4 linked regions of the Homo sapiens genome follow. The protein of the gene in region 3 interacts with the protein of the main gene of each other region in a pairwise test. Each region holds a gene or a part of one and is shown on either strand. Other genes may lie near its edges.

Evidence for each region.
Region 1: the proteins of AGR3 (region 3) and CGRRF1 interact in binary tests that used the Homo sapiens proteins (3 or more experiments, as listed by UniProt).
Region 2: the proteins of AGR3 (region 3) and PRAF2 interact in binary tests that used the Homo sapiens proteins (3 or more experiments, as listed by UniProt).
Region 4: the proteins of AGR3 (region 3) and FXYD3 interact in binary tests that used the Homo sapiens proteins (3 or more experiments, as listed by UniProt).

What each region holds. Positions count from the first base shown.
Region 1 is NC_000014.9:54,512,884-54,519,907, reverse strand, and holds part of CGRRF1 (cell growth regulator with RING finger domain protein 1), read right to left. Parts: intron 1-7,024. UniProt on the Homo sapiens protein: Able to inhibit growth in several cell lines.
Region 2 is NC_000023.11:49,070,984-49,078,462, forward strand, and holds PRAF2 (PRA1 family protein 2), read right to left. Parts: upstream 3,020-7,479; 5' UTR 3,005-3,019; coding exon 2,826-3,004; intron 1,668-2,825; coding exon 1,450-1,667; intron 1,026-1,449; coding exon 886-1,025; 3' UTR 178-885; downstream 1-177. Other genes in the region: WDR45 (WD repeat domain phosphoinositide-interacting protein 4), read right to left, coding at 3,820-3,929, 4,153-4,298, 4,381-4,482, 4,562-4,770, 4,883-4,962, 5,447-5,541, 5,662-5,770, 6,660-6,764 and 2 more. UniProt on the Homo sapiens protein: May be involved in ER/Golgi transport and vesicular traffic. Plays a proapoptotic role in cerulenin-induced neuroblastoma apoptosis.
Region 3 is NC_000007.14:16,878,962-16,886,277, forward strand, and holds the start of AGR3 (anterior gradient protein 3 precursor), read right to left. Parts: upstream 3,023-7,316; 5' UTR 2,983-3,022; intron 1,795-2,982; exon of another isoform or gene 1,763-1,794; intron 1-1,762. UniProt on the Homo sapiens protein: Required for calcium-mediated regulation of ciliary beat frequency and mucociliary clearance in the airway. Might be involved in the regulation of intracellular calcium in tracheal epithelial cells.
Region 4 is NC_000019.10:35,111,985-35,118,842, reverse strand, and holds the start of FXYD3 (FXYD domain-containing ion transport regulator 3 isoform 1 precursor), read right to left. Parts: upstream 3,021-6,858; 5' UTR 2,884-3,020; exon of another isoform or gene 2,803-2,883; intron 2,580-2,802; 5' UTR 2,484-2,579; intron 1,587-2,483; exon of another isoform or gene 1,538-1,586; coding exon of another isoform or gene 1,465-1,537; intron 844-1,464; exon of another isoform or gene 719-843; intron 354-718; exon of another isoform or gene 244-353; intron 1-243. UniProt on the Homo sapiens protein: Associates with and regulates the activity of the sodium/potassium-transporting ATPase (NKA) which transports Na(+) out of the cell and K(+) into the cell.

The sequences.
Region 1 (7,024 bases), on a different chromosome or scaffold from region 3:
AGAAATTACAGTAAAATGCTGATTGTAGAATCTAAGTGATGGGCAGATGTGTGTTCACTGTGTAATTCTTTCTAGTATTCTGTATGTTTGAAAATTTTTATAATAAAATGCTGGGAACAAATACCTTTATGGATCCAAAAAAAGCAAAGAAACAAAGTAATGAGTAAGGCTATGCCATGGTTTCATGGTTCTCAGTCTGGCAGCAGACAGTGGCAACCAAGCCTTCATGTACTAAGGAGACCAGCATAGGCTGTCTTCTCCAGACAAGGGCCAGAGCCAGGTTTATAACTTGGAACCAGGAGCTGGATTAGGTCAATACAAAAATACGCAGAACTGTCGTTATAAGACTTGGTCCTAGGCTGGGTGCACTGGCTCCTGCCCATAATCCCAGAACTTTGGGAGGCTGAGGAGGGAGGAATGCTTGAGCCCAGGAGTTCGACACCAGTCTGGGCAACAATAGCGAGACCCCATCTCTACAAAAAAAAAAAAAAAAAAATGGAAAATTAGTTGGGCATGGTGGTGTACACCTGTGGTCCCAGCTACTTAAGAGGCTGAGGTGGAAGGATCGCTTGAGCCTGGGAGGTCAAGACTGCAGTAAGCAGAGATTGTGCCACTGCACTCCAGCCTGGGCAACACAGAGAGATTCTGTCTCAAAAAAAAAAGGCCAGGCACAGTAGCTCACGCCTGTGATCCCAACATTTTGGGAGGCCAAGGTGGGCAGATCACCCGAGGTCGGGAGTTCAAGACCAGCTTGAACAACATGGAGAAACCCCGTCTCTACTAAAAATACAAAAAAAATTAGCTGGGCATGGTGGTGCATGCCTGTAATCCCAGCTACTTGGGAGGCTGAGGCAGGAGAATTGCTTGAACCCAGGAGGCAGAGGTTGCAGAGAGCCGAGATCATGCCATTGTACTCCAGCCTGGGCAACAAGAGTGAAACTCCGTCCCAAACAAAACAAAACAAAACAAAACAAAACAACAAAAACCTAGTCCTGGTCTGGAGGTCTAGGAATCTGGGTATAAATGAATATAAAATGTTTTTGCAATCTATCCATCTGACAAAGGTCTAATATCCAGAGTCTACAAGGAACTTAAACAAATTTACAAGAAAAAAACAACCCCATTAAAAAGTAGGCAAACCACATGAACAGACACTTCTTAAAAGACATTCATGCAGCCAACAAACATGTGAAAAACAGCTCAACATCACTGATCATTAGAGAAATGCAAATCAAAACCACAATGAGATACCATTTCACGCCAGTCATAATGGCAATTATTAAAAAAATCCAGAAACAACAGATCTTGGCAAAGTTGTGGAGAAAAAGAAACACTTTTTTTTTTCTTTTTTTTTTTTGAGATGGAGTTTCGCTCTTGTTGCCCAGGCTGGACTGCAATGGCATGATCTCAGCTCACCGCAACCTCCACCTCCTGGGTTCAAGTGATTCTCCTGCCTCAGCCTCCCAAGTAGCTGGGATTCCAGGCATGCACCACCACGCCTGGCTAATTTTTTTTTGTATTTTTAGTAGAGACGGGATTTCTCCATGTTGGTCAGGCTGGTCTCAAGCTCCCGACCTCAGGTGATCTGCCCACCTCGGCCTCCCAAAGTGCTAGGATTACAGGCATGAGCCACTGCGCCTGGCCTAAAAGAAACACTTTTGCACTGTTGGTGGGAATATAAATTAGTTCAACTATTGTGGAAGACAGTATGGCAATTCCTCAAAAATCTAGAGGCAGAAATACCATTTGACCCAGCAATCCTATTACTGAGTATATACCCAAAGGAATATAAATCATTCTATTATAAAGATACATGCATGCATATATTAATTTCAGCACTAGTCACAATAGCAAAGACATGGAATCAACCCAAATGCCCATTAGTGATAGACTGGATGAAGAAAATGTGGTACATATGCACCACAGAATACTATGCAGCCATAAAAAGGAACAAGGTCATGTCCTTTGCAGGAAAATGCGTCAAGCTGGAAGCCATTATCCTCAGCAAACTAATGCAAGAACAGAAAATCAAACATTGCATATTCTCACTTGTAAGTGGGAGCAGACAGTGAGAACACATGGACACATGGAGGGGAAACAACACAGACTGGGGCCCATCAGGGTGGGAGCTGGGGGAGGGAGAGCATCAAGAATAGCTAATGGATGCTGGGCTTAATATCAAGGTGAATGGTTGATCTGTGCAGCTAACCACCATGGCACACATTTACCTATGTAACAAACCTGCACATCCTGCACATGTACCCCAGAACTTAAAAGTTGAAGGAAAAAATAAAATAAAATACTCAACTAAAAATAATAATAATAATAATAATTGCAAAGTGGATAAACAGTGAGGGTGATAACAAAGGGAGAAAAGTAACAAAACAAAACGAATCTTCCACTAAAATTTAGGTTGAAAACTAAAGTTTCAAAACACACAAGTCTAACACTGAAAGATAACCAATAAAATTAACAAATGAAATAAAAATTCACTTTTGATGACTCTGATTTTATAAAAGAGTTGGGTAAGACTGCTCTGGTCCTGCCTAACAAAGCTGAAAAGCAAGCCTCTAACAGACTAAACTATTTCTGAGTAACTTAACAGTGACCCAGAATAAAGCTCAAGAATATTTAGAGGAATACAAAAATATCCAGCACCTAGTAAGGTAAAATTCACAAAGTATAGCATCTGATAAAAAAACATTAACAGGCATGCAAAGAGCAGGAAAACAGTACCCACAATGAGGAGCAAAACTCTATAGAAATAGATCCAGAAATCATACAGATACTTGAATTAGTAGACAAGGATATAAAAATAGCTCCTAGGACTATATTCCATATGTTTCAGAAGAAAAGTAATGACTGCACATATGATATAGAGGCATGGAAGATATTTAAAAGGCCCAAATCAATATTTAGAGATGAAAAAGATAATGTTTTAGATAAAAAATATAGTGGATGAGATTAACAGCAGATTAGGTATTGCACAATAAAAGATTAGTAATCTTGAAGACAACATAACAGAAAGTACTGAAATTGAAACACAGAAAGGAAAAAGACTGAACAACAACAACAACAAAAAGCATCAGTAAGCCAACTTTTAGTCAGCCATGTAACTGAAGTCTTAACATATCACTGAAGTTTGCAGAGGACAGATAAAGTATTTGAACACATAATGGCGAAAACCTTCCCCAACATGTTGAAAACTATAAAAACCTACAGACCCAAGAATCTCAATGAGCTCCAAGCACAAGAAACAAGGAAAATTACCTAAGGCACATAATAATCAAATTGCTTAAAACCAGTAATATAGAGAAAATCCTAAGAAAAAGAAAGAAGATATGCTACGGTAGCCAAAGAAAAGGAAAAAAAGATATACTACACATAGAGGAACAAAGATAAGAATGTCAGTAGCTTTTTAATATTAATAAGAAGCAATGGAAGGCAGAATATCTTTAAAGAACTAACAGGAAAAAAATCTTGTCAATCTAGAATTCTATACCTATATTTTTCCAAAGCAAAATAAAGACTTTTTCAAACATAACAAAAGCTAAAAGAATTCATCACCAACAGACTTGCACAACAAGAAAAATTAAAGTATGCCTTGGGAAGAAGAAAAATGATACCAAATAAAAATCTGGATTGATACAAAGAAATAAATAGCAGTGAAATGGTAACTACGTGAGGAATTATAATGCTTTTCTTATATCTCTTTAAAATATTACCTGAAGGTAGATGGTGATAAGTTAGAGATACATTATAAACTTTCAAGCAACCACTAAAAAAAGTTATTGCTAATAAACCAACAAAGGAGATAAAATGGAATCACATAAATTATTTAACTAATGTAAATGATGGCTGAACAAAGGGGAAAAAGAAACAAAAAACAGACTAGTAAAATAAAAGAGGGGAAAAGAAACAAAGAACAGACAAAACAAACAAAAAACGAATAGCAAGATGGTGGAATTAAATCTAACAATATCAATAATCACATTAAATGTAAATGTTTTAAACTCCCTAGTTAAAAGGCAAAGATTATCAGATTGGATAAAAACATAAGACCTAGCTATATGGTGCATACAAGAAACCCACTTTAAATAAAAAGACAAAAAGAGTTTACAAGTAAAAGGATGAAAAAAAGATGTATATGCTAACACTAATCAAAAGAAAGCTGAAGTAGCTACATTAATACCAGACAAAGTAGATCTCAGAGCAAAGACTATTACCAGGATCAAAGAGGTCCATTTCATAGTGATATAAGGGTCAATTCATCATGCACACAAAATAATCCTAAATGTTTATGTACCTATTAATAGAACTTCAAAATATAAAGCAAAAACTGATACAACTGCCAAGAGAAATAGATAAATCCACAATTATAGTCAGAAATTCTAATACTCCCCACAACTTCAATAACTGATAGCTCCAATATATAGAAAATCAGTAAGGACATCAAAAACTTGAATAACACTATCAACCAATTTGACTTAATTGACACTTATAAAACATCTCACCCGGCCGGGCGCGGTGACTCACACCTGTAATCCCAGCACTTCGGGAGGTCATCGCGGGCAGATCATGAGGTCAAGCGATCGAGACCATCCTGGCCAACATGATGAAACCCCATCTCTACTAAAAATTAAAAAAAAAAATTAGTTGGGCATGGTAGTGCACACCTGTAGTCCCAGCTACTCTGGAGGCTGAGGCAGGAGAATTGCTTGAATCCAGGAGGCGGAGGTTGCAGTGAGCCGAGATCATACCACTGCACTCCAGCCTGGTGACAGAGCGAGACTCTGTCTCAAAAAAAAAAAAAAAAACAAAAAACTCACCCAATAATAGCAGAATATATATTATTTTTAAGTGCATTAGGACATTTACCAAAGAGAGAATATATTTGGATTATAAAACAAGTCTCAATAAATTTACAAGATGTCAAATCATAAAAAGTATGCTAACCACAATGGAATCAAATTATAAATCAGTAACAGAGATATCTTTAAAATTTCCAAATATTTGGAAACTCAATAACAAACTTCTAAATAACTTAGAGGTCAAGAAAAAAATCAAAAGGGAAATTATTTTAAATTATGACCTGAATAAAAATGAAGACATATGTGTCAAAATGTGGGGGAATGCTGATAAAGCAGTACTTACAAGGAAATTAGAAGGCACTCAACATTTCTGTTCCATCTCCTGGAAGAGAAGACCAAATACAGCATGTTCTCACTTATAAGTGGGAGCTAAATGATGAGAACTCATGAGCCCAAAGAAGGGAACAACAGATACTGGGATCCACCTGAGGGTGGAAGTTAGGAGGAAGAACAGGAGCAGAAAAGATAACTATTGAGTACTGGGATTAATACCTGGGTGATGAAATAATCTGTACAACAAACCCATGACACGAGTTTACCTATGTAACAAACCTTCACATGTACCTCTGAACCTAAATGTTTAAAAACAACAACAACAGAAATCTCAACGTTATAAAATACAGGCCACCAATGAGTCCAAGTTTCCATCAAACAAACAAGTATGAGTTAACGCTTTAGATGCAGAATTTCTTGAGAATATACCCAGATGAATAAATATGATCTGATCTAGTGTTACATTCTATTCTCCGGCTTACAATCCATCCTCACATATATTCCTCAGGATTCCACAGATATAAATTAGCAAAATTTTGCAATTCTTTTCAAGGACAGACTATTTCTAGTCAGATCAGATTTTGTCCCTATACTAGGCAACATGCAGAGATCTGGGCCTCATGACAAGATAATAGAGGTAGCTCTTAAGTGTGGATAGCCCTTTGCAAAGAAACTACCCTAGGTGAGGTTATTACAGGATCTTCAAGCAAGAGAAGGCTAATTTTCAAAAGTAAGCAGCTTCTGTCAACAATGGAGGCTCAGAGTGACTGGAGTTTTTTTCAAGATTCTCAGCTCTGTCCATGTCTACCTAGATGTCCCCATTCCAAGTCTCAGGGTTCTACTTCTTTCCAAACAATATTCTAAATGAGACACTGACAAAGGCTAGGTAATTCTATTACTATCGCAGTTAAAACTGTGTTCAGGCACCTGCCACCATGCCTGGCTAATTTTTCTATTTTTTGTAGAGACCGAGTTTTGCCATATTTCCCATGTTGGTCTTGAACTTCTGGGCTCAAACAGTCTTCCTGCCTCAGCCTCCCAAAGTGCTGGAATTATAGGCAGTGAGCCAAAATCATGCCACTGCACTCCAGCTCGGACAACAGAGCAAGACTCTGTCTCAAAAATAACATAACATAACATAACATTACATAACATAACATAACATAACATAACATAACATAACATAACATAACATAAAACTGTGTCCAATTTTTAGCAAGTCTTTCCGTGGCTACACAAAATGAAGTGCTTTAGAACCATGGAAACTTTTTGATTCTCTAAGACTTGACCGATCTAACGCTTTGAAGACCTGAGTTTGTCATTTGCTTTCTGTCAGTGCTCCAGTGAACAAAGAAGCACCTATCTCACTTCTCACTTCTCCCTCAGTCCCTGTAGTCATCATTACTGCCATTAACAGTCAAGCGCTTTAGCCACTTGGTCCTCCAGCACACAGCTTCAGAAATAATTTTATCACAATCAACCAAATGTATCAATTTGATTGTGATGCCACTACATGTTGTGGGTTACTAGATTATTTCCCATTGGCAAAGAGCTAAAGAAATTACCAAACCGATGCCCCCAAATTCTATCTTTGAAAGTTTTCTCACCAGGATCCCATTCTTAGTGACAATTTCTTTATCAGTCAGGGTCCAGGCAGGAGTCTGAAAATGCATCCGTTATTTTAACAGAGAGATTGGACTTGATTTTTAAAGTTGTCAGCATCAACATCAAGAGAAATTTTCATATGAAAAATGTTAACCATATGTTGAAGAACTGAAAAGGCAAAAAGAGGACACTGAGTCCTACTTATGTGATAAGAAGTAGTAACAGCAGGAAGCAGCTATCACTCCTAGGACAAGGGAACAGAGAAAAGAGAATAA
Region 2 (7,479 bases), on a different chromosome or scaffold from region 3:
GAGCCACTGCACCTGTCCTTCCCTGTGCTTTAATGCTGATCCAGAGGTCATAAGTTCAAGGAAGGGCCTCAGAGATCACCTCTTCAGCCCACATATTCAGGAAGAGTCTAGCAGAATTGAAAAGTAGGCCACTTCTGTCCTTTGAAATGTACAAGGACTTTACCCAGGAGGCTCAAATTGGCATGAGAGATGCAACAGGCTTTATTGTTGCAGCAACACTAACATATACGCCCCATTCCCTGCTGAGGCCTGTCCCCACCTCACCCCTTGGTTGTCGATGGTGTGGAACATTGGGGTGAGGGGCAAAATGCCTAAGCAGAGCTGGAGGGAGGCAAATGGGACTGGTGAGGGTCGGGATCACCTGGACCAGGGGTCCAACAGTCAGGATACCCGACTCCATCCACACAGGGGCATGGAACACTTGGGTTCTGAGTTCAAGATTTGGCAATGTCTTGACCTGGGTTGGAAGGTAGGGTGGGGTCTGGAAAAGCTTTGGTCCAGGGTTCAAGATTTGAGAGTGCCTTGCCCCAGGCCCCAGTTTGGGGATGAGCATGGAGAAGGGTGGATGGGAGTGTCTCTGGGTTCACAATTTGAAATTGGCCATGGATGCTCTGGCCTGAAGCCAGTTTTGGGGCTGGATGTAGGTGGCTCTTGGTCCTGGGTTCAAGGCTGGGGAAGACTCTTGTCCCTAGGTAATGGGGGCTGGGTGTGAGGGATATCTTAGTTTGGGGCTGGCGTGGGGGTAGGGCGGTCACAGATGTCCTGTTTTGTTTGGGCAGGGGGCTCTAGGCTCCTGTTTTAAGTGCTGGGAAAGGGCTCTGGGTCCCAATTATGGGCTGGGGGTGGGGTGGTATTCTCCAGGTCCTGGGTACAGATCCCAGGGGCCTAGGATCCAGCCTCCTGCTCTTGTCCCAGTGCCTCTAGTAGCAGGCCCATTGGCGTCCGCTTGAGACCAATGCTCTCGATCTTGTTCTCAATCTTGTTCTTAAGGTTGCGCAGGCGCAACGAGGCGTGCACCAGGATCACTGTGGGCGGCACCGAGAGGGGTGGTCAGTGGAATAGACCTCAGCCTGCAGCCAACCGGGGCCCACCGAAGGGAATTGGCGCGCAGGCAGGCCAATGGAGTGGTGAGCAGCCAGGACGCCTCAGATACTGAAAGCGTGGCCGAGTAATTGGCTTGGCAACGTGGGCATGGCCAGGGAAGACGCCCGGTAACGGGGACGTGGCCAGTGGAAGGCACTTAACACCAAGAGTGAGATAGGAAAGGCGATAATAAAAGGGGTGTTCCCAGAAGGGGGAACGAAGCCCGGGAAGGCGCTTTTAGCGGGGGCGTGGCGAGGCCCTCGGGTTTCCCAGCCCCCTCTCAACCCGGGGACCGGCAGGGCTGGCCTGGTGCCTTAAGCATGCTCTGGCTGCTTTCCTGGCTATCTCGGGGTAGTGGAGACTCACGAAGCACCGGCCCGGCGATGCTGAACAGGAAGGTGCAAGCGCCGCCCGCGACCCAGAGCACCAGGAGGCCGACGGCAAGCACTGCGGCCAGGCAGGCTGCAGGGTGGCTGCGGCGGCAGCGGCGCACAGCTGCGCGGGTCTCAGCTGCCCACACCAGCACGCCGAGGGCCACCGCCACTACCAGCGCGCTCAGGAGCGTATGAAGTGGCCGCACGTACCTGCGGGTACAAGGGAACCAAGCTAGCCGGCCGGGCGGAGAGACGGCCTCCGGACCACCACCCACCCTGGGCCCCAAGAGCCAGGGTCTCCCGTCTCCGGACACTCCAGCCTGGCACATCCTCCCACCAGCCCTATCTCCAGCAGGCCCATCTGCCAGGGCTCCCGACTCACCCTTGTAGACCCCTCCTTTCCTCCTTGTCAATTCCACTGTCCTGTCTTCCTCAGGTCCCCGCTTCAGGCCCTCCCATCCTGCTAGACACTCCCCACACCCCCGGGCTCCCAACACTTCCCTGGACTTTCCTTCCGACTCTGCCCCCGTAGGGCCCCTCATCAGCCTGCCCGCAAGCTCCCCCTTTAACACCAGCCCCTGCAAATCCCTCTTTCAGGCCTTCTGTCTTCACACGTTCCCCTCTCCCCAGGCCTAGGGTCCTTATAGAACCGCCCTCCAGGCTCCCATTTCCCTATAGATTCCTCCCTCCATCATTGCTAGGACCTCTTCCAGGTCGTCAGCCCCACTCTGAACTTTCAGCACTGCTCAAGTCCTTCCTCCAGATTCTCCATCCCTCTCTGGTCTCAGGCTTTCCAACCATGGATCCTCCTCCTGGGCCCAAGTTCCCCAACAGGTACCTGCCCCTGGCGCCTTCCAATCATAGCCAGGCTCCCCTCCAAGACCGGATCCCCAATAAATACATCTTCCAAACCCTCCAACTTTACCGTCTATTTCCCGGTCTCTGCCCTAAGTACTCCAGGGTCGGCCTCAATCTGGCCCCATCATTCACATCACACCCCCCCTACGCCCCTCAAGTACTCTCATGTCCCCCTTTCGGGCCCTCCTTTTTTTCCGGTTCACCTTCCAGCCCACTTTCCCCTTCAGTCCCACACTTGTCTCCATCCTCCCCATATCTTCCTTGCAGACCCCCATCCCCCGCAGGCCCTCCTCATCAGCCAGGCTCCATCTCCCTGAGGCCCTCCTTATAACTAGGCTCCACCTCCTTCAAGGCCCCCCTTCCAAGCCCCTCAGGCCGTCCATCTCTACTGACTTCGCCCTTCCCGGCCTTGCACCCCCCTCAGGTTCCCCGTCCTGGTCCTCAAAGACCTGTGGGTCTACCCCCACGCTCTGCAGACGTCCCTGGCCAACCGGCGCCTCCCTCCCTCACCCGGCGAGAGCGAGGCCGATGCCGAAGCAGAGAAGGTAGTTGGTTTGGTAGTAGAGGAGGTTGTTGATGACGCGGTGGCACCATCGCTGCGGGTCGCATGGATCCGGAGCCGCCAGACGCGCCGACCCCAGAACAAAGTCGTCCAGGGCGCGTAGCGGTGGCAGCCGCACCTCCGACATCCTGCCGGTTAATGTGGCTGGACCAGCCAGGAGGGGGCCGGACTACAACAACCGTTACGCCCCTCGCCACCGCGGGGCACACCGGGAAATGGAGTCTGGGCTGGGCAGCTTTTTCCTAACCTCCTAGGTGGATTGCGCAGGGGCGGCGATGCACGTGACCGGAAAAGCAACTAACACGCCGCTCAGGAAAGCAGCAAAGGCTGCCGGGAAATCAAGCCTTTGCCACGAAGCGAGATGCTCCCAACCCTTAAAACTGCCATCCACCCCCGCGCGGGGCGCCGCAGGGGCTGCTCCGGGCGGTGCCAGCGGCTCAAGCACAAAGTAGCCAGACAGATAAGAAAGGAGGGACTGTCACAAGGATCCGAGTTGGATTCCACCTCCTTCCTGTCAGCGCCCAAGAGGGTCACATTTCTCCAGGAAACTCCATGCCCCGCCCCTGAGGTCAAGCCGTAAATGCCATTAAGGGCCTTTTATTCGTATTCATCACATCGGAGATCATCTCTTCCTAGGAAGCTTTTAAAAAATCCCCAGGTTGGATTAGGGCACTCCCTCTGGGTCCCTGGCAATTTCCTCCAGGTTAGGGATCCCAAGGGGTCGCTGCCTTCCTGGGTCTCTGGCCTGGCCCTTGGGGCACACAGTCATCAAGAAGTGCTGGGGGGAAGTGAGCTCTTTATTTAGACATAGCTCTGCTGAGTGGAAAGTGGGCACCAGCCCCATTAATGCTTGCTGGCTGGTGGCTTCCAAGCACGCCCCACTGCCAAGGCTCAGCTCTGCAGTTCTGCCACTGCAGGTCCCTAGCACAGCCCCCAGGGTCCTTAAAAGTCATCATCATCACAGATGTCAAGGTACACGTCGAAAGCCTCTCTGTTGCAGTTTCCATCAGGAGTGAAGACATATTTGTGGAAGGTCCCATCTACGCAGATGGCTGGGGGAGGGGGGGTGGTAAAAGGTCAGAGGCTGCCACAGCCACAGGCTCCAGTCCTCTCAGGCATCTCAGGACCTAGGGTCTGCCTCCAGGCCTTTGCCCAGTGCTGTCCCCCTTACTGATGATGAAGCTGAGCCTCACATGGCCCTAAAATCCTTTCAGGTCCAACCTGCAGGCCTTTGCCCCATGCAGTACCCCCAACCAAGGGGCTGTTCCCACTCACCAATGACAGAGTTGACGTTCTTGGAAGTATTGCGACCGAAGGCGCAGATGCAAGCTGACTCAGCAGGCACAGTGAAGCTCGCCAGGCTCCACTGAGAGTCCACGTACTGCCCAATCATAGGCCCCACCTTGCCCACGCGAGCCAGCCTGCAGGCAGCACTGGCTAAGCCCAGGTATGGTAAATGGGCAGGGGGACAGGGACACGGTAGGGTGGGGAGGGGGTACTCACGCGGAGCGGCGGTTGAGGCGGGTATCCTTGAGAGCAAAGATATGGACAGTACCCTTATCACTGGAAGCGCAGAGGAAGGAGGAGTCGTGGCTGAAGTTAATGCTAGAAGACAGATCAGCAGTGATGCCCACATGTCATGTGGTATGGGGTCACCAGCCCACCATGCATACCCTGTGCTCACCAGTAGAGGGTGGCAGGGTCAGTGCCTCGGCGCAGCTCCACCAGTTTCTCCTTGGATTGTGTGTCAAAGAGGCGAATAAGGGTACCCTTCTGGGAGGCTGAGGCCACTACAGTGCCTGGCTGGTTTAGAGACACACAGGCTATGTCACTCTGATGTGCATTGATCGTGAATGGAGCAGACGAGGTGCCAGGCTTTGTGCTCGCCAGGTCCTGGGGTAGGAGGGAGGAGTCTGAGGTTGGGGTGGTATGGAGGGAAGGGGCCAAGAGTCCACAAGGAAGCCAGTCCACCAACCTACCCACCCTTGTCCACTGGACGGCTCACCACAAGTTGCAGACTCCCACACTTGTGTCCCGGGAACACTAGCAGTTGCTTCTCCAGGCTGGGGCAGAGGTCACAGAGCCCTAGGGTGTGAAGATGGGGGGTGGGGTGGGCGGCTGAAGAGGAGGCAGCATCTCAGAATGGACAGAGCTGGATGAGGACCAGACTTCAACCCTCCACGATAAGCTTAACCCGAAGAACCCTGAGGGGGCTCAGCTCAGCTGCACGCCCCGCCAGCTAGGCAGATTCCATTCCTTGCTCTGCAGCTGTGGAATCTAGTAAGCTGCTATCACAGCCCCAGAAGCTCAGGGATCCCTGACACACCCACCCATGTCCTCACGAGGTGTTTTTGCTCTGCCACTGGGGTACCCAGGGGTGGGGCAGGTCCGGAGGTGGGGAGAACTGGCTGAGGGCTGGAAAGATGGAGAGGCTATGAGTGTGAGCATCTCCCTGCCTCTTTCCCCATTTCTCTGTGTGTGAGTGCCCCTTCCTTTCTTTCCTCATCTCTGCCCCTCTGCCCCATCCACTGTTTCATGCCCTTACACCTGTGTATCTGAGCCCTCTCACCCTTGGGGTTGTCCCGGGTATCAAACTCAAACAGCTTTCGGGGATTGTCGGGGAAGGAGTACACATAGATGCGGTTCTTCAGCACGATCACGATCCTGTGGGTATCACACAACACAGGATGGCCGTGAGGGGGTGGCGGGATGCCCAGGGAGGACTATCCCTCTCACTTACTGTGGGGACCTCCTACCTCCCACCCCGGTCCTCCTCAGGCTCACTTGTCATGGCGCATGCGCACAGAAAGCACTGGCTTGGTGAAGGTGAACTCCAGCACCAGCTTCTCCTTGGAGTCCTTGCCCTCCCGGGCATCGTCCCAGATCAGCACTGCTGGGCAGGTGGGTGGGTTGTCGGGGCCAAGGTTTAGGGTAAGGGGCAGCCCTGGTGACACAGGATCCACCCCTGCTTCCCAGGGACCTCAACCTACTTGCTTAGCCTTTCAATAAACAACCAGTGAGATCCTCGCACAGCACGAGCACTTGTGGATATGATCCCTGAGAGGAGTGTTCTAGACTGTTACACTCATCTACAGATGAGGAAACTGAGGTTCAAAGTGGTTGAGTGTCTGGCCAAGGACCTCAAAGCTCATCAGCAACCAAACAGGGACTCACACTCAGGCCTGTAACTTCCCCTCGGTAACTATTTCTGCCTCCAGGGTCCTAGTCCATGCACCCTGGAGATTTCCGTGAGGAATCCTAGGGCTCTGTGACTCACCTAGGGCAACTCCTGCCTTGTCCAGATGGGATCATCAAGAAAAACCCTTAAAGTAAGATGGCACTTGAGGCTCAAGCCAAGGGGGTATTGGGAAGACGGCTCCAAGATTTTAAAACCTATTGCTTGTGTGACCTTGGATGAGTCACTTAACTGCACTGGGCCTCAGTTTCCTCATCGGTAAAGATGGGGATAATGATCCTTCCTACCCCATAGAGTTACTGTGAGGATTAAATGAGTTAATAAACGTAAAGTGCTTAGGGCAGTTCCAGGCTCACAGTAAGTGCTCTAGGGCATGGCACACAGGAGGCACTCAATCAGAATTTTTAAAATGAAAACAAAGCACCAAGCTTCTCAAGCTATAAGATCCATGACTTCCAAGCTGTAGGCCTCCTCTCTGTGTGACTCTGAAGTACTCTGACGTCTTCATCTGCCAGTACCTTGGGGTGCCTGTGGGAGGCCAGGAATCCGAGAAATCTGGGCCAAAGGGCAGGATGAGGGCACTTACCTGAGATCTCTGAGAACTTGGGACTACTACCACCGCCCACCAAGGCCAGAAGGTTGGAGCGGTGCAGCATCTCCACCAAGCCCATGCTGCCCACCTGCTCGTGGTCTGGACAGGGACCAGGGTGTCAGTGGAGGTGGGAGCCAACGCCCAGCCCAGCTCTTCTGCCCATTGCCCCTCCCCTGCCAACAGCTCACCCAGATGCCCCTTCTCCATCAAGGGCTCCACGTTGTAGATGCGCACACCTGTCTCCATGGCGCAGCAAAAGCAGCCTGGGGGATGGAAGGAATCCAGACTGCCTTAAAGAATGCCCAGGTAGGAAGCTGGGGGCCCATGGCCCACTTCTGACCCCTCTTTTCCTCGCTTCCTCCCACAAGGGTACAGGCCCAATCCTCTCTCACTTTGGTCTTGGTTGAAACGCAGGCTGGTCACTCCTCGAAGTGGCTGTTGAGTCATGGTGCAGGATTGTTCCTCTGCATACAAATGGGATAAAGATGAGAAGAGTCCTGGAATCTCCCCTCCAAGTTCTGCCTCACCTGATTTCCTCCTCCTACTCTGCTAACTACTGACTCTGGAGTGACTGCAAAAAAGATAAAAACAGGCCAGGCGTGGTGGCTTATGCCTGTAATCCCAGCACTTTGGGAGGCCAAGGCGGGTGGATCACCTGAGGTCAGGAGTTTGAGATCAGCCTGGCTAACATGGTGAAATCCCGTCTCTAATAAAAATACAAAAGTTAGCCGGGTGTGGTGGGGGGCACCTATAATCCCAGCTACTCAGGAGGCTGAGGCAGGAGAATTGCTTGAACCCGAGAGGCTGAGATGGC
Region 3 (7,316 bases):
AAACTCAAATAAGATCATGTTGTTTGATGTCTTGTAAACTATGAAGTGACTTTTAGCATGCAGAAATATTCTTTGCCTTTTGATTCTCCTTCATCTAATAGGTCAAAATATTTTAACTCTATACTAAGATAAGATTATACATGAATAAATATTGCTTAAAATAGAAATCAGAGGAAAAATAGAATATGGAGGATTCTTGTCCTTCAGTTCCTTTATAGTTTCTTACCTTTCTCATCCTTCCAACAATTACTCAGACTTTTGCCCTTCAGTTTATGATACAGCTCTTTATAAAAATCAAGTACTATCATATTACTATAAATTAGACATATGTATAGAGAAGAATAGACTGTCATGATTACATTCTCTCCTGGTTAGCTAGAATTCAAACTGATTCTTAACTCAATGTGCATCTTTTATACTTTGCACGTTAAGATAAAAACTGAAGTCCAAAGTTGGGCCTGATCTGGTCATAAACCACTTGATAAATATATTACAGGAAGTCTTTAATACTTGTGAGATGTTTAGTTACAGCATTAGCATATAAAACTGATTTGAAAATGGTTGACTCATGCAGTTTTGAAACTTTACCTCAAAATATAAAATAAATATACAGACATCATTCACATTGATTTGAAGTTCCTTTAAGACGTCTTTCCTATTGGCTTACATTATTTAGTATTGAACTCATCACCAAAATAGTAAAATTTCCTTAGCCAAAATGGCTAGTGACTGATTCTTTAGTGATTCTGTTCAAACAAAGATGTTGCTATATTTTATTGTAGTAGGCATTGTGGAAAATGAAAAGATATATAAGACACAATGTTTTGGCATTGGTAAAACATTTGGCAATTTTAATCACCTAGTTATTGTAAAGTAGCAACCGCAGTCGTGGAGGAGAACAACAATTTGGTGGTAAAGAAGTTTACAGATTCTAGATTTCTCCAGACATTTCCTCATTCCTCCCATTATACTGTTTTCCCCTTCCCAGTGGTGTATCTATTGCAGCCCCTCTATGGACTGAAAATAGTTACCACTCCAGGTTAACCTTACTTTATTTCCCTCCCTAATCCCCAGTTGTCCCTCCCTCCTTCCCTTCCCCTTCCTTCCTTCCCCTTCCTTCTTTCCCCTTCCTTCCTTCCTTCCTTCTTTCCTTCCTTCCTTCCTTCCTCTTTCTCTCTCTCTTTCTTTCTTTTCTTTCTCTCTCCTTTCTTTCTTTTTTTTTTTTTTTTGCTCTTGTCACCCAGGCTGGAGTGCAGTGGGGCCATCTCCACTCACTGCAACCTCCGCCTCCCAGGTTCAAGCGATTCTCCTGCCTCAGCTTCCCAAGTACGTGGGACTACAGGTGTCCACCATCATGCCCGGCTAATTTTTGTATTTTTAGTAGAGATGGGGTTTCACCATGTTGGCCAGGCTGATCTCAAACTCCTGACCTCAAATGATCCAACTGCTTCGGCCTCCCAAAGTGCTGGGATTACAAGGGTGAGCTACATCGCCCGGACTCCTTTCCTCTCCCCTCCTTTCCCCTCCTTTCCCCTCCTTTCCCCTCCTCTTTCCCCTCCTCTCCCCTCCCCTCCCCTCCCCTCCTCTCCCCTCCTTTCCCCTCCTTTCCCCTCCTCTCCCCTCCTTTCCCCTCCTTTCCTGTCCTTTCTTTCCAGGCATATAAAAACCCTGTTAAACAATTATCACGGTGCCTGATAAGAATTTCAGTTTAAGTTCTCATAACTTATTAAACCATAAAACATTTCAGAATGTCATCTTGTACCTTAAGGCCTTGGTCATCTTGTACTTTAAAGACTGAAACAAATACAGGGTGGATTTTAGTACAGGACAGGGACAGTTGACTCTGGAACACAAAGCTCAACCCAGGGAAGGCAGCCTTAGTTAGACAGGTTGGGAGTTGCAGTGGAGGAACTAAAGCAACCACCTAGGACAGGATCTTAACCTGGATCCAGCAGGCTTCTAGAAGGCCTGTGGCTGAGCTACAGAAGGCTCAAAACCCCTGGAAATTGTGTGCAAAATTTTATCTGCCTCTGTTCCTTTTCCGTGGGAATAGGGTCCAAAACGTCATTAAAATTCTTCCAGGGATCTTGGATATAAAGAAGAGTTAAGAAAAGTCAATCTGGAAGGAATCTTTAGAAAGATTTTTCTATGTTAGCTACAGAGACAAGCAGGTGGAATCTGCATTTTAAAAAAGAAAAAGCATAACCTCATCATTTTTGCTATTTTAAAGCTGCGAAGCTTAGAGTTAAGCGGGAACCATTTTTTCTTTAAAATTTCAAGTCTTTATGTATTATTGTCAAATACTTTCTAATTAAAAAATAAAAATCTTGGTTTTCTGGTTTTACATTGATAAATTATAAAATAGATATTAAATATATTCTGTGACAAAGCAGTACAACTTGTACACTGTAGATTTTGAATAAATAACGCTTTCCTTGGTAAAATATAGTGTAAACTGCTGAGGGTCCTTTAGTATCAGTTGCAAGGTTAAGCTACTTGGGGGAACACAGATAAATGTGGCATGGTTACAGGCCTACAGCAGCTTAAAATGCATTTGGGAGGCACATAACCATATGTCAGCAATTAGATTGTATAAACATTGGTCAATTAGCATTTTATGACATTAGTATTTTATTTTTCAAAAGTAATTTAACGTAAGTAACTGATATTATAAGTTCCTATATTTTAAAATAAAACAAGACTTAAAAGAATATAAAGAAGAGCTATCATTACTTGTAGAATACTTTTCAAAGAGTCGTTTTTGTGGTTGACGTCAATTTATTCTAATACCATTAATATAAATAGAGATAAAACTATGAAACCAGCAAAGGAAATCCAGTTCAGTAAAAGAAGAAAAATAAAAATTCATTTCACTTTCCTACCCTTTACTGAAAGCTTCACTTTTAAATAGCAAAAGGTGATTATTTAAATATAGCAAAGCTTGACCACTGATTAAGTAATCTGGAAAATTTGCTTGCTTACCTGACTTGGCCAGTGCTCTTGTTGGAAATGTATTCTGGATGTTTCTGGTTAAAAATGGGTGTGGATTTATAGACACACACACACACACCTGACCTACAACCTCACCTGCATAGAAACAAGAGCATAGTTACCGGAAAACAAACTTAGAAAAATAGGCTGGTCTGAAAAACTCTGTACTTCTTTCCAGTTCTCATGCTTCTCACACTAAAAAAGCTCTATTCTTTTTCTCTAAATTAAGATTGAATGTCCTCATAAAATAAGGTCAAATACCATCTTTGTGCTTCTTTCTCTTTTACCTTTTATTTCCCAAGGTAGTTTAATGTTTGGCTGAAGTTCAGCACAAAAAAAAAAAAGAAAAGGAAGAAAGAAAACGGAATGAATTTAAGAACTGTGTGCATGCCATTGTTCAAATAGAAATTCCTAAGGGTTACTCTGTTTACAGGAATATAATTAACAGCTAAAGAGATTGGGTCCTTTTTTTTTTGAGAGAGAAGGAAATAAAAATTCTGTTTTAAAGTTGAACATTTTCATAATTTGATTATTCTTTACAATTTTTCTATAAAACCTTTACTGCACAAAAAATTAGAAAAACAGGCCATTAGATAAGTTTAAATTTATCTAATAGTTAGATACTGTTGAATTAATTGAGAGTAATTATTTAATTACTGTTAAAATAACGTAAGGCAGTGTGTCATCAAATTTGGCATACCTGTTTTTTGTACAGCCCAGGAAACAGGAACGGTTTTGACATTTTTAAACGGTTGGGGAAAAAAACCCAAAAGAATCATATTTTGTGACATGTGAAAGTTATATGAAATTCAATTTCAGTGTCCTTAAGTAGAGAGAGATGTGGCGGATGGCATGCAGCCATGTGCATTTGCTTACTAGTGTCTATGGCTACTTTTGCACTGCAACAGCAAAGTCCGGTACAGTCCAGGACAGTGGATACCAAAATCTGTGCACACTCAAAGTCCCATATCTGGCCCTGCGTAACCCACAGATATGAAAAGTTGGTCCTCCGCATATGCAGGTTTGGCATCCCGTGAACACAGTATTTTTGATCCACTTTTGGTTGTGGATACAGAACTTGCCCATATGAAGGAATATATTAAAAAAAAATCCTTCTCTAAGTGAACCCACACAATTCAAATCTATGTTGTTTAAGGGTCAACTGTGCTTGTGACAGGGACTGTATGATCTGCAAAACCTAAAATATTTACTATCTTTAGTAAATGTTTACAGAAAATGTTTGTTGAACCTTAATCCAGGGTATTGTTTATAAATTCCTTCCTTCCTTCTTTCCTTCCTTTCTTCCTTTGCTTCCTTTCTTCCTCTCTCCCTCCCTCCCTTCCTCTCTTCCTCCCTTCCTCTCTTCCTCCCTTCCTCTCTTCCTCCCTTCCTCTCTTCCTCCATCCCTCCATCCCTCCATCCCTCCCTTCTCCCACCCTTTTTTTGTTTCTTTTTTTTGTGGGGAAGGGTCTAATTGCTCTGAATACATTAACAAATATACTGTGCAAGAATGGGAGTGATGATTGTCTTGCTCCTGATGTTAAAGCGGGTGTGCTTCCAGTATTTTAACTTTAGATGTAGTGCTGGATTTGGCTGAGTTGACCATGTTAAGAAGGTAACCATTATTCTTAAACTACATCTCTTAAAAGCAGGACTGTTGGATTTTGTTCTATAAAGATGGGCATATGGATTTTCTCATTTGTTATAGAAAATTTTACTGTTTTCCTAATTAAACTTTCCATTGTCCTGAAAGAAACTTCATGTAGCTAGGTTGTATATTCTTTAACTGTACTGCTGATTTGTGTACTTGTCTAACTGTGCTTTCTTCCTTACATAGGATTCTCAAAGGGACCCTTCCCTGGAACATGCTATTCAAATGGAATCCTTCTTGCTGAAGGTTATGAAACTTGACATATAATTTTAATTTTAAATCCAGCCAGCCTTTGCAAAGCAAAGAAATGGCTGGGCAATAATCCTTATATTTCTCTGTTAGTGAAAAGTCTGGGAAAGCTTTCAACTTCTTGTTGACTGAGAGTGGTTACGGAAAAATCTCCAAATATTCTGCATCCCTGTTAAACTTCTCACATAATATTCATTTAAATAAATTATAAGATAAGAGTGAGAAAGAGGAAGTCGAGTACCTGTGGGGTAGTGAAACTAGACCCTATAATGTCTGAGCTGATCAGTGTCTTTTGGTCTCTCCCACTAGGGTGATAATGCAATGTGTCCTCTAACCCAGGACAATTTTGAAAGTAAAAGGAGGTAATAAAGTCATTGGAATTATAGCATCTTAAAATAATATTTTGAAATATATATTTGTCATCCAAAATTTGTTTTATTGTGTAATAGATCACAAATGGTTCTATGAAAGATTATTCTTAGAAGTAAAATTATTTAAAGTATATTCATGTACATGATGGCAAATTATACAAATTATTCTTTGTATATAATTATGTTAATCATTTTCTTAACTGTACCTATCTGATACCAGGTGGCTGGTATTTTTCTGGCATTAACTGTCTTTATTTTTTCAATGTGACCTCATATTTATTTTTTCATAAAATTGCCTGCAATAATCTTCAAAATCAATCTTACGGTTAATGGATTTGGAATTGTCAACAGCTTCAATTGACTCTTCCTGTAGGTCATATTACATCCTATTTTTAATTAAGAAAATAATTTTTCTATAGCCGATGGGTTACCCAGTAATTTGAGAAAGTTCAGTTCACTGGAGGACAGTTTTAATTCTAATTTTAATCTTACTGAAATATTATCTCAAATATTGTCTTTTAGCCTCTGCTTAGAGTACCTTCTTCAACAGAAAATTTTACAAGATAAAACAAGTAACATAAGTCATCTTGCCTTATAATTATTTTAAATGTTTCATTAAATTTCCAAGCTACAAAATTGTAGGGCCTCTCTGTTTCATTCTATTCAGGAACAGAATATAAGTGTGTCTAATTATATACTCTTTTAATAATAAATCAAGCTGTTTTGCTCTTGGAGTTGATTCTTTTGAGGGCATTGTTCTATATTTTTACAAGTTTAATTGGTCACATAAATCATTGGTTAAATATAGGATTAGGATTACCTATTCACTTTGTGTGTGTGTGTGTGTGTGTGTGTGTGTGTATGTGTCCATCTGTTTGTCTGTATTTCAGTTTATCAGTCTCTTACTAAGAAAATATATATACATTTTAAAAGGCTGACAGTGGAAAGTAGGTATTCCTCTTGCCCAGTCTATGGGTCTTCTTGAGGCAATAACGGTTTATACATCTACCTATTTATGTTTGTATATTAACACAAATGGTGCCATTCAATGAATACTTCTGAACCTCTTTTTTATGTAATAATATTGAAGATTGTACCATATTAGGACAGGTATTTGTGAAACTATTCAGTAAATGAAAGAGAATAATGTCTTGCAGAGAGCATTTATGTATCACTGTTTTCTAAATCCTGTAGAGGCAAATAGTTATTTTTAAAAATATTGGGTTTGGAGAAAAAAGACTCTTTGGGTTAAAGGAATAGATACCTCCAGAATTCATTATTGAGCTGTGCAATTTTATACCAAACATTTAAATGCATAGTGTTTTTATAAGCCTCTCATAATCAATGTCTGTAACCTACAGGTTCTTGCTCTGTCAAAATTAGTTACACTTCCCATTGCAAAACAATAATGTTTTATTTCCATTAAGCATAAAGTCTCTGAACTTGCAGGGTATTACATCTAAACACTTGATAAACCTGTGGTATTTTTACAATATAAATATAAATGAGATTTATTCCTTGGTATTTGCCCTGTGAGCTAAGTAAGATTAAGTAGAATTGTGCATGTAGCTTTTGGATTAGAGATTCAAGTCCTTCAATCAGGCTCTTACCTGTAGCTTGTCGTGATAACTTTGTACTTTTTCCCATAAAAATGCTTTTATATCTTAAACAGGCATATCATTTTTTCCTGCCATGGTGGAGATCAGGGACTCAGCCTGGCCAGTTTCCTCAGCCCAGGTCAGGGAGGGCCTGTTTTGGAAGACATGAATAAAATTAAAATGGATTGTGCAGAGCTGGGAGGCAGCCATGGTAAATCTGAAGTGAGATCCCCAAATAGTTCTCAAGTAGATGAAGAATAGATACAGAAAATGGGAAGAAGAAAGCAGAGCCAGAGAGTAACAGAAGCAGGGAAAGGAGGGAGACAATAACGGGTGTGGGGAGGAAAGAGTGGTAGGGCTCTTGAGTGATGTGTGGGGCATTTGGCTCCGTTCAACAGGCTGGAGAATATGGATGTGGTCTTACCATGAGATTAGAGGATAAAGAACATTTTTAAG
Region 4 (6,858 bases), on a different chromosome or scaffold from region 3:
ACATTGCAGACTTCAGGCTGAGGACTGAGCAGGTTCTTCAAGCTGCTTGGGGGTGGGGTGGTGTGTGGAGGAATTGACGTGAGGCTGGGACTGGGGGTAGAGGGGGACTCTACCTCCTGGCTGCAGCCCTAGCTCCATCTCTGTTCCCCCGAACCTCCTGCCCCTCATCCCACACCCATGCCCTTCCCGGTCCCAGCCCTGGCTCTGCCTAGCCGGGGTCCCCAGCCCAGCCCCTGACCCTACCCTAGGCCCAGCAGAGTTCCTGGTGACAGCAAACACTTTCTCTTTCCCAGGTAGACCTGCTCAGCATAAGGAACTCGTTTCTCTCTCCTTCCTGACCTGGCATCAGTCCTGCCCTCTCACCAGCCTGCAAGGCTGCACCAAGCCCTGGCCTCCGAGCATGCCCTCCCCTGCCCTGTCCCTGCCCTGTCCCTGCCCAAATGCTGAGTGCATAGTTATCATAATTGTTTTTTTTTTTTTTTTTTTTGAGGCGGAGTTTCACTCTGTCACCCAGGCTGGAGTGCAATGGCATAATCTCAGCTCACTGCAACCTCTGCCTCCTGGGTTCAAGTGATTCTCCTGCCTCAGCCTCCTGAGTAGCTGAGACTACAGGCGTGTGCCACCAGTCTCGGCTAATTTTTGCATTTTTGGTAGAGCCAGGGTTTCACTGTGTTGGCCAGGCTGGTCTCCAACTCCTGACCTCAGGTGATCCACCCACCCCGGCCTCCCTCAGTGCTGGGATTACAGGTGTGAGCCACCACGCCTGGCCTAGTTATAATTTTGATAGCGAGAGCTGGCACTTCCTCCACCTTGCCCTGGAGTGCACACTGACCTTGCCGTGTTCTCACTCACTTAACCCCCCAGCAATCCCCGACGTCGTCCACTATGTCCTCATTTCACGAACAGCAAAAATGCTGAGAGAGGGTGGTGCCCGCAACCAACGGTGCGGGTGGTCCTTGCAGGTTGGCACAGACTCCTCCCTCTGCCTGGCACCCCAGGGCCTGGGAATCCTCTCAGCTTCCCAGTTAATTCCACATGCTGAACTCACAATTTTAGTTGGAGCATCCATTTCTTTTCCTTTTTTTGCGGGAAGAAAGCCTGAGGCTTTGGGGAGCATTACTGAGGCCCAGGAAGTGTTTAGGATCCCCAAAAGTGTTGGGGGTTGGGGGAGCTGGCGTGGGTGGGTGGGCAGGATGGCATGTTGGATAGGGGCACAGGTTGTAGGTGGACTGCCTGTGGTCTGAAGCTGTCACCCATGACCATACGAGTCCTGGTAATAACAGCAGATGCTTATTGAGTGTCTACCCCATGGGGGCATTTTCTCAGCTTCCCACTTACTCGCTCAATCTCTGCAGCTTAATGCAGGGGGCACTATTATTAGCCCACATTGCAGTTGTAATCCTGTAACCCCTGCAAATTCATCTTAAAGCCCTATGCTCTGTCGCCATGGCTGTTGAGTCTCACCTCTTAAGCCTCTTTCCAGGGGCTCCTCCAAGCCACCTCTGGCCTGCAAGGCCCCACTATACCCCCTTCCCATGATGTCATCCAGCCAAGACTGACAGATGGTATCCTCCTCGCCCCAGCCTCTGCAAAACAACGTCCAGTCCCATGCTTCCGGAGGCTGCAGGGAGCCGGGAGCTGGGTCTGCCCTCACGTTCCCCATTCAGGCTGTTGTCTGAAGAGGCTGTGGGCTGCTCCCGAACTGATGTGGTTGGTGAGCAGGTTAGAGAGGAAGGCAGCCCTGCAGCTGATGCTCTGTCTACCTGCTCTCATCCTTCCTGGCCATGAGGTCCCAAGGCCGGCCTGAGGACTGTTTCCCCCACCTGCCCTCTGCTATCCCCTCTATTCCTCCATACCATGGGAGAATGGTCTCATGTTCAGGGGTGGGTAGAAAGATCCTGCCCGCTGTGTGCTCCTGAAATCTCCCAAGCAACTCCCCATTTAAAGCTTCCCCCAGCAGCTCCATCCTTTTTTCCTGGAGGTCTCCAGAATCCAGATCCCTCAATGTCTGGACACCCCGAGTCCACCCAGCACTCCTTATCCACCCAGATCCCTCAATGTCTGGACACCCCGAGTCCACCCAGCATTCCTCATCCACCCAGATGTCCCCAGTCCATCTACGCACCCCTGGTCCACTTAGATACCCCTACCTACCCAGGCACCCCCTCTCCTCCACCCAGCTATCCCCAACCCAGATATCCCTAATCCATGCAGACACTAGTCTTTCAGACACCCCAACCACACTTATCAGTCCTGCCCTCACCTCAGCTGGTTCAACAAGTCCCTGAGAGGAGAATGGTGGGGAAAGGGACATTAGGGGAAGGGACTTCCGTTTATCTCCTGGCTCCAGAAAAGCATTTCACAAGATTTTAGGCGCTTTAACATAAAAGCTTCTATGGGGCAGGGTCAGGGGGCAGGTAGATACTTCCTAATTTAGGGGCAGAGACAAGGAGGGCTTGGAGGAAGGGGCCCCAGCTGCTCACCTGTGTGGTTCACCAGGCTGAGCAGAGGTTCCGGGAGAAATCGGGCTGCCAGGCGGAGTCCTGCGTTTATCCGAAGCTGCCACGCCCTAAGCAAACCTGGGCAGGTAGAAAACAAGTCAGATGCCCTGAGGCCCAGGGGCTCCATTCCTGCTCTTAAAGAGACAGCTTCACCCCCTCCCCAGCCATGGGCGGCAGGTTGCTCCCTGGGGTCACCAGGACCACAGCAGCCTCAGGTGAGACGGAGAATTGGATGGGCTGGAACTCGGCCCCTGGAATTAAGGGAGGAGCTTTCTCCAATCTCCTGTGCCCAGGAGAGGACCTTGAATGGGGAAGGTTCTGGGGTCTTTAAACGGCAGAGCCTCCAGGGCCATGCAGTGAGATGATGCGTTGGTGTTCCGACCTCACTTCTTTTCCTTAGATGATGTGTTTTGCCTGGTGGAAGGATTGCTGGCAGTTGTGGAGAACTTAAAGTCCCCTTCCAGGCCACATCTTGCCGCTGGTACAATTTCAGGATCAGCAGAAGATGCTAGCGTGACCAAAGTCAGGAGATGGGGCAGGGGTGGATATGAGGGAGCGGCTGGAACAGCAGGGAGGGGTCAGGGTGGGGACTCTGGGACCTTAGTCCTGGTCATAACCTGCTCCCTGCCCTGGGGAGAATGAGAACTGTCTGCCAGGCACCAGGCTGCAGTTTCCTAGCCAGGCTCTTTCCGTGGGTGCTGGGAGCCAGACGCCTGGGTCTACAGAGTGGGTGCTGGTGGGGGCGGCTGCCTCCTAGTCCACATAAGGCCCCCAGCACTGTACAAGCCTCCCTCCCCCTTTCCTCCCCTGTCTCCTGCTCCTCCTCCTCCAGGCATTCCTTCCGGATGGGGTCTGTGCAGGCTCCCCCATGGTCCCAGTTGGGGGTGCCCCCTCCCCTCAATTCCGCCTTCTTAGACAGAGGGACTTTTGTCTGGGGGCTGGATGGAGAACAAGGATCCTTTGAGCGGTTGGCGGAGGATTGGGGTCACGGGGAGGGGTAGGGCCAGGAAAGGGGTAGCTCTGCCCTGGACACCAGCTGGACTCCAGGCGACCCCAACACCACCGTGGGGGCGGGGAGGAGGGCTGCAGGGCCTGGCCAGGGAGAAGCAGCTGCTGGGAGTGTGGAGCACAGGACAGGAAAAGGGGGTTTGGGTCAAGGCTCTTCCGGAAACTGGCCTGCTGGGGGCAGAGAGAAGGACCCCCCACTTGTCATCGCTGAGGGATCGGGGAGGGCAATGTTCGCCCAGCGCTACACCCCTTCTCTATGTGGTTCCCTGGGGCAAGTTGTCAAGCCCAGGTCCTAGACAAGGGTAAGGCTCCCTCCTACCACTCTTAAGGCGGGGCCAGTTCCCATAAGGAAGCCGGGCGGGGGGACCTCGGGGTAGGGCTCTAAGCAACAGGTCCAGGAGGAGATAGAAACAGGAAGGGGAGGCCCGGAGGCCAACTCAGTATAGCTAAGGGGGGTCTTTGTGTCTGGGCGGATAGCGTCTCTTCCCTAGACCCTTGAAGCTTGTGTCTGGGACGACCCCTTGGTGGTCTTGGGAGTGGAATGGTGTCTCCCTCTGCTGGGAAGCCTGGGAACTGCAGGCATCCGAGAGCGAGTAGGGGCGTGTACAGGGTGGCTGGGAAGGGCGGGGGGTGCTCTGCCCTTCACCGGAACGGGGTGAACTGGAGAACTGTTGTCTAAAAATCTTGGAGGAACACCCCTGCCCGTGGTTAGATACAGAAGTATTTCCCAGACAGCTTGCTAAGGGGAAAAAAAACAAGGTATTGGGAAACCGTGCAGTGTGCTACCATTTGTGAGCGGTAAAATAATGCATATGTATATACTTGTAATGAATAAAATATTTTTGGAGATTGGCATCCATACCCATGGCTTCTGGAGAGGGAAACTGGGAGGCTGGAGGGTGGGGTGGAAGTGAGACTCACTCATTATCACGTGCCCTCTTATATTTTTTGAATTTTGCATCTTGAAAATGTACTACCTTAAAGGGGTTTAATTTAAAAAATTTGGTTCAGATTTAAAAAAAAATTTGCAGGTCAAAATTTCAACCTAAGGGCTGGTTTCAACCTGGGGGACCAGCAATTAGAGACTTCTGACAACCTCTGAATGTTCTGTAGTTTTAAACACCATGATCTTACATTCTGAGGTACAGACGTTTACGGTTTTTACCCAATCCAGGTCAACCATAAATTCTTCCTAGGCTGGACGTGAACATGCTGCGTCCAAGTGTGTGTTGGGCTGGCGCTGGGGCTTGGGTTTATGGTCAGAAGGACTCTGAGACCCTAGTGTGATGAGCACACTGAGTCTTAGGAAGGGCTGTGAGGAGTAGAGTTTGTGCAGTCACTTGCACCCTATTGGGGATTAGGTCTCATTTGGAGTGAGTCTTCTGGGCCAATCTGACTTCAGTTATGTTTTAAATGCATGTAGGTAATATGTTTTATTAATATATTGTATATAATATACATAATAAACATATTTGAAAAAGTTTCTCTCGTTTTGCTTTTGGAATCATTTGGGCCCAAAGAACCTGTTAAGGCTGTGAGTGGCTGTGATTTCTCCATATCCTGGGAATTCTTGCAAAATGAAAAAAACCAAACCTACAGATAGTTTCTGACATCATAAGTTTTTCAGGAACGCTGAATTAAAGCACAGAATCAAAGCCAGAGCATGTTATACCATCCCTGATTCAAACTTTTATTGATTTTGTTTCAATAATTTCGTTGCTCTTTATTCAAGGCTGGGAGCGTTTCTGCAGGCTCCTGGCCCTAGAGAGGGCAGCCTGGAGGCACCCCCAGCCATGAGAGGGGTGCTGGTTGGGTGGGGCCTTGCCTTTGCAGGTAGAGCCTGAGCGGCCAGGCTGACCGGCTGGGAGGTGTGGTCACAGCGATACGCCAAGGTCCCACTTCCTGGGCAAGATGGGGCTAGAGAGGCCGGTGGACAGGGTAATGTGGCTTCCTGGGGCTTTGTGGAACAGCGCTGTGGTCTCAGCACCTGTGGGAGAAGAGTGGGCACTGGCAGGTAACCCTGTCCCACCACCATGGGGATGGTGTGGCTGTGGACGTATCACTGTCCGCCTGGCTTCCAGGAGCCATGTGAGGTGACACAGTGGCCAAGAGTCCACAGGCTCCCTGACACCTGCCTCTGTGCTGCTCTGACGTCATCACTCACCCACAGAAGCTAGAAATGGAGATTTTTATGATGAAATCTCCTGTTTTGTTTTGTTTTTTTTTTGAGATGGAATTTTGCTCTTGTCGCCCAGGCTGAAGTGCAGTGGCACGATCTCAGCTCACTGCAACCTCTGCCTTCCAGGTTCAAGCAATTCTCGTGCCTCAGCCTCTCGAGTAGGTGGGATTACAGGTGTGTGCCACCACGCCCGGCTAATTTTTGTATATTTAGTACAGACGGGGTTTCACCGTGCTGGCCAGGCTGGTTTCCAACTCCTGACCTCAAGTGATCCGCCTGCCTCAGCCTCCCAAAATGCTGGGATTACAGGCATGAGCCACCGAGCCCGGCCTTCCGGATTTTTTTTTTTTAAGGTGAGTTCTTGCTCTGTTGCCCAAGCTGGAGTGTAGTGGTCCAATCATGGCTCACTGCAGCCTCCAACTCCTGGGCTTAAGTGATTCTCCCACCTCAGCCTCCCCTGTAGCTGGGACTACAAATGCACGTCACCACACCTGGCTAATTTTTTAATTTTTTTAGAGACGGGGGTCTCGCTATGTTGCCCAACCTGGTCTTGAACTCTGGGTCTCAAGTGATCCTCCCACCTTGGCTTCCCGAAGCGCAGGGATTATAGGTGCAAGCCACTGCACCCGGCCCTGATTTTTAAATGTTGGTAACTTCGTTTTCTTAACACTTTGTAGACAGAATGAAAAATATCCAGTGGTTGGATAAGGCCCTGGGGCCACCGGTTGGAGACCCCCATCTTACAGACTAGGGAAACTCAGGGGAGGTTCAGGGTTCCCCCTAACCCCTGTTGTCACTCACTCTGCTCCGGCCACCTGGGCCTCCTTGCCGTTCCTGGATCACTCCAGGCATGTTTCTGGCCAAGAGCCCTTGCAATGCCTATTCCCTTGCCTGGCTCTCTTTTCTCCCGCATCTGGACAGCTCAAAGCCATGAGGTTCAAGTGGCTTTCCCCGACCACCATCGCACCTACCCCCTGACCTCTCTATGACCTTTTGACTTCTGTTTGCTTTTTTTTTTTTTTTTTTGTGGTGCTATCTGCCTCCCCTGCTAGCACGTCAGCTCCTCTCAGGGATTTTCATCTGAATTATAGAACAGGGCCTGGTGCATAGTGGGTGGTCACGAAGTATCTGTTAATTACCAGGCTGGGCACCATGGCTCACGCCTGTAAT